Regions from separate parts of the Homo sapiens genome. Here region 1 is linked to region 2. A link means that fine-mapping ties the variant in region 2 to the expression of a gene that starts in the linked region. Tissue or cell type: cerebellar hemisphere. Region 2 holds a variant in brackets; the other region holds the start of a gene. All regions are shown on one strand. Distances are between the middles of the regions.

Region 1 (2,670 bases), 370 kb before region 2:
TGTATACATTTTTGTGTGCTTATCCAGTTATCCTTTAGATAAATTCCAATAAATGGAATTGCTAAAGAGTAAACATATTTTAAAGGTTTTTTGATACATAGTCAAATTGCCCTCCTAAAATGTATAAATTAGTAGTGCTCAGTCTGCCAATTCTTTTAACTCTTGTTAATCATCCAAAGGGAAAATAATTGTGTGTGCGTGTGTGTGTGTGATGGAGTTTCGCTCTTGTTGCCCAAGCTGGAGTGAAATAGTGCAATCTCTGCTCACTGCAACCTCTACCTCCCGGGTTCAAGCGATTCTCCTGCCTCAGCCTCCTAAGTAGCTGGGATTATAGGCGTTACAGGTGCGCGCCACCATGCCTGGCTAATTTTTTCTATTTTTAGTAGAAACGGGGTTTCACCATGTTAGCCAGGTTGGTTTCGAACTCCTGCCCTCAGGTGATCCGCCCACCTCGGCCTCTAAAAGTGCTGGGATTACAGGTGTGAGCCACTGCCCCTGGCCAGAGTTTTGTGGTTTTAATCTTTTATTACTAGTGGGTTCAAATCTGTTTTCATGTATTTATTGTCTGTACTTTTTGTGAATAAGAGTCAAGCTTCCTATTTTTCTATTATGTTAACTTTTTCTTCTTGACATATAACTTTATATTAAGTATATTGTCTCATATTTGCACTGAAGACATTTTTCCTAATGTGGCTTTGCTTGCGGTGGCTTTTCACACATTTCTTAATTTTATGAATCAAATTGATCAGTTTTTCAATGAGACTTAAAATTCCTTCTGGGGTGGGATGCAATATAATAGAATGAAAAAGGCAGAGGACTTTCACACAATTCAGTCCATGATCTTAGTACCTATGTCTAGTTATCACCTAGCAGGATGTGGTAGGAAGAGCACTGGACTGGGAGTCAGATCACCTTGCCTCTCTGGGTCCCTACTTCCTCATCTGTAGAATGGAGATAAGAACGAAAACTCCCTCCGAGGCCTGTAAAAAAATAATTGAAGAGAATGCACATAAAGAGCTTTCACCAGGCCTTGTATATTAGAAAATCCTCTCTGAATCTCAGCTTTTGTTAGGGGGAGAGGGCAACACAGACTTTTGTAAAACTATTTTCACTCACTTGTATGTGAGTCTACGGGAATGAGGTGGGGATGAGGAACCTAGAAATCTAACCATTCACCCAACATCTCTGAGAACTGCATGGCTAGAGTCAGAACTTGGGCTCCCATCCTGGTCCTGCCCATTTCTTGGTATGCAACCTTGGACAAGTCACCTTTACCTCTTCCGTGACTCAGTTTCTTCCACCTAAAAACTATTATAGATATATGACAGACCACCTGCCCTCATTCCCAGCCCTGCTGCTGGGCGAAGGAAACGCTTCAAAAACAGCTCACAAAGGGCGGCAAACAAGTCTGCTACGGTGCAGCCTACCGCCGAGGGGTGGCCCCAACCCCGGCCCCCGCGCCCCTGCCCTGTCGCAGGAACAATAGCTCCCCTGGAGGCGGCGCCGGCCGCGGCCGGGGGCGGAGCTGTCGGCGCGGGAGCTGGGGGTGTGCGCGGGGCGGGGTCGCAGCCACCCCTCCCGCCGGCGGCTCCGTCACGCGCCCCTCACCGGGCGGGCCGGGGTCTTTGTGACGCGGTGGCAACGGCCACGGACACAAAGGGAAGGCGAGGAGGCGAGCAAGAGGCTGGGCCTGCCTCCGGCCCGCGACCCCCGCCCGCCGCGCGCGCGCCCGCCCGCTCCCCTCGCCGCGGTGTCCCCCACGCCGGCTCGCACCCTCGCGCGCACCCTTGCGCGCCCGCGACCCTCGCACGCGCCCGGACCCGCCGACTCCGTCCCGAGCGCCGCGGGCCCGGGCCTGGCGGACGCTGCGGGTGGGGCGGGGATGCTGACGGGCTGCTCCCCGGCTCAGCGGCGCGGCTGCTAGGAGGCACCGAGGCAGCGGCGGGGCTCTGGGCGCGCGGCTGGATGCCCCCGGCCTGCGGCTCCCTGCGCTTCCCGCCGTCCAGGGGCACCAGTCATGGGCGCCGCAGCCGCTGAGGCGCCGCTCCGGCTGCCTGCCGCGCCTCCGCTCGCCTTCTGCTGCTACACGTCGGTGCTTCTGCTCTTCGCCTTCTCTCTGCCCGGGAGCCGCGCGTCCAACCAGCCCCCGGGTGGTGGCGGCGGCAGCGGCGGGGACTGTCCCGGCGGCAAAGGCAAGAGCATCAACTGCTCAGGTAGGACCGGTCGGAGCCGGCCCTAGGTCTTCCCACCCCTCCGTTGCCGCCTCCCTCGTGGTCCCTGCGGTCGGCCGGGCTGGGAAAGACCCCGTCGTGGGGGTCCCAGGGGTGGGCCCGAGGGTGAGCGAGGGCGGAGGGCAGGGCGCGAGCGTGCGGTGTGGCTTTGGGACCGGCGCTGGGGATGGGAGTGGCCGTGGGTGCGTCCGAGTGTGTCGAGTGGCTGGGCGAGGGCGGCCCGGCGTGTGGGGAGGCGGTGGGGCCGGGGCCGGGGCCGGCGAGGCTGAGCGGCCGGCCGGGGCTCCCGGTGTGGTCGTGGGTGTGCTCGCGGGAGCGTGTGTTTGTGTTGTGAAGGCTGAGGGGAGGGAGGGCGGCCCCAGGCAGGGATCTGTGTGTGTGTGTGCAGAGTGCGGTGGGTGGGAGACGGCGAGGGGGCTGGGCGGGGTGAGGGCAGGGG
Region 2 (2,857 bases):
CTCCTCAGCTTGCAGACGACCTGTTGTGGGACCTTTTGATCATGTGAGTTAATACTTAATAAAATCCCCTTTATATATGTATATATCTATCCTATTAGTTCTATCCCTCTAGAGAACTCTGACTAATACCATAGGCTCAGATGGGTGGATTTAAAAGGCTTGTTAGAAAATACTCCGTATTCTCTAGGTAACTCAGTAGTCAGCAGAATGATTCTGTAAGTATCAAACACTAGGAAGGATAGTGTGATGGCCTCTGAGGCAGTCACTGAGGTCTCTAAATTAGTTTGGGAGCAGAAGGCAAAGATAAAGAAAAATAATTAGATCTATAAGCAAATTTAAGACTCTCATTATAAAGTATTAACCTGATAATAGCTTATAATGAGAGGTTATAAGGTATTATCTTATTTGTACTTTCTTTAAACAGAAAGTGATAGAAGATTGATTTTAGATTTGGTATAAAATTTTATCTTAAATCCAAGATTTGTAATTGCTAGAATGTAAGTTGTCATGTGAGGAAATTTCAATATTCCAGTCCTGGGGAAAATGATTGTTTTTTTCCTAGAGTTAATCTTTTTCACTTGAAAACTGCAATTTTTTGCACAGTTCTTGGTCCTTAGGATACAATGATGGTTTAATAATCTCATCTGACTTGGTTACAGCGTCTCTACAGTGGCCCCAACAATACGCTGAATAGACTTAGTTGTGCTGACTGCACAGTAGAGAAATGATTAATAGCCAAACAGCCAAATCTGCCCAAAGTGATTGCACCATACCTCATCTCAGTTTCTCACATTTTTTCATTAAAATGGTAGATTGATTTTTCTGCTTTCACGGCTTCTTCAGTGTAACGTGGTGCATTTCTTGCCTGGCAGTTGTAAAGCTGAGCTCTTGTTATTCTGTGTGCATGTGCACATGTGAGTATGGTTGCATATGTGCTATAGTGCAAAAGTTCTGGACTGGGTGGTAGGAAATCTACGTTTATTTTTACTTCCTGTACTCATGGTCTAGGTGACTTAGTGAAAACCACTGCCTCTTTGAACTCTTAAATTTTGCAATAGCAGTGTTTCTTTTATTTTTTATTTTTTTTATTCTTGCCATCCTTAAAACGTATATGAGAGCAATACTCACTCAGCATTGCTGGGTAAGCCAGTGAGACGCCATGGTGTAATGGTGAGGATCAGCGGTACTCTCTGCTTTTCAGGTAGTGTTTCCACAGTTGCCTGAATATGGCTATTGTGAGCTTCAAGTGAGAATGTATCTGCACCAGAAAATCAACCTCCTCCAATGAAATAACAACTTCTCTTCTAACA[A/G]TGATAAATCTTGATGCCTTTTTAACATAAGATAAAAACATGGTAAGAGAGCTGGGTGGGGTGGCTCATGCCTGTAATCCCAGCACTTTGGGAAGCTGAGGCAGGCGGATTACTGGAAGTCAGGAGTTTGAGAGCAGCCTGGCCAGCATAGTGAAACACTGCCTCTACTAAAAATACAAAAATTAGCTAGGTGTGGTGGTGTGCGCCTGTAATCCCAGCTACTTGGGAGGCTGAGGCATCAGAATCGCTTGAACCTGGGAGGCAGAGTTTGCAGTGAGCCGAAATCGTGCCACTGCACTCCAGCCTGGGTGACAGAACGAGACTATATCTCAAAAAACAAAAACAAACAAGTAAAAACAAAAACAAAACCAAAAAACATGGTAATACATCTGACATTAATCTTTAGTCACTACTTTACTCATTTGAGAATTAGGAAGAGATCAGTTAAACATCTTAAAGGTAAGGGTAAAAGTATATACATGGCTTTGGTCCTTTCTTTACACTTTTTCTGTCTTCTCCACAAAATAATTGGCGTCCACAGTGGGCCTCAGTGACTGACATTGGGAGCTTTCAGATGACTTCTCCATTAGCTCTCTGTATGACATTAGATGCATTCAAGTACATAGTAGATATTTTTATGTTGTTAGAGCTTCCCAATTTTATATTAGAATAGATGTTCTAGCTTCTAAATGAGTTGCCTTGAAGTACAGGAGTTTAGAGGTCACAGAAAGCCTATCTTCATTTAAGGAACATATTACATTTCAGGTATTTTAACTAATGGTACCCATTACTAAACCCTGATGTAGTGGATTAATAGAATACCAGACCTGAAGGCCAAGAATCTTTTTTTAAATTTTTTTTTTAAGTTTCAATAGGTTTTTGGGGAACAGATGGTGTTTGGTTACATGATGAGTTCTTTAGTAGTGATTTCTAAGATTTTGGTGCCCCCATCACCCGAACAGTGTACACTGTACTCAATGCAGTCTTTTATCCCTCTCCCTCTTCCATCCTTTCCCCAGAGTCCCCAAATTCCACTGTATCATTCTTATGGAAGGCCAAGATTCTTAAGGGAAATTGATACCTTCATGAAGGAAAGTCTGATGTTTTCTGTCTCATAGAGTTCCCTAACTATGCAGCCACAAATAGAAAGGAGATCCTTGTGTATATGGCAGGAAGAGAATTCCCAGTTTTCATCATAACTAAAAAAATTCTGTGACTCGTGAGTTCAGCCAGAAAGGTGAGGTGACTTTTCTGTCTCTCCATAAGTCAGTCCCCAATAAACTCTCTCCATACCTGCTGTATTAGTCAGGGTTCTCCAGAGGGACAGAACTAATAGGATACATGTATATATGAAAGGGAGTTTATTAAGGGGAATTGACACACGCGATCACAAGGTGAAGTCCCACGATAGGCCGTCTGCAAGTTGAGGAGCAAGGAAGCCAGTAGTGGATCAGTCCAAGTCCCAAAACCTCAAAAGTAGAGAAGCTGACAGTGCAGCCTTCAGTCTCGGGCTGAGGGCCCGAGAGCCTCTGGCAAACCACTGGTGT

Evidence for each region. PIP is the estimated chance that this variant, and not a neighbour inherited with it, causes the effect.
Region 1: it holds the start of TMEFF1, and the variant in region 2 is the best candidate, but not a certain one, in a credible set for the expression of TMEFF1 in cerebellar hemisphere (GTEx, PIP 0.83).

The regions. Positions count from the first base shown.
Region 1 is chr9:100,471,528-100,474,197 of GRCh38, forward strand. It overlaps TMEFF1 (transmembrane protein with EGF like and two follistatin like domains 1), which reads left to right and starts at 1,622. Exons shown (of 10, transcript NM_003692.5): 1 at 1,622-2,213. The coding sequence starts at 2,018. The region is part of intron 1 of MSANTD3-TMEFF1 (MSANTD3-TMEFF1 readthrough); the gene reads left to right. It overlaps LOC124902237 (a long non-coding RNA gene), which reads right to left and starts at 1,363. Exons shown (of 3, transcript XR_007061702.1): 1 at 1,276-1,363; 2 at 850-980. RefSeq lists silencers at 1,438-1,597, 1,878-1,937, 2,248-2,407.
Region 2 is chr9:100,844,201-100,847,057 of GRCh38, forward strand. The region is part of intron 3 of LOC105376179 (a long non-coding RNA gene); the gene reads left to right. Among named protein-coding and RNA genes, the nearest start is that of PLPPR1, 180 kb to the right of the region's middle. The variant A/G (reference allele first, on the strand shown) is at 1,311.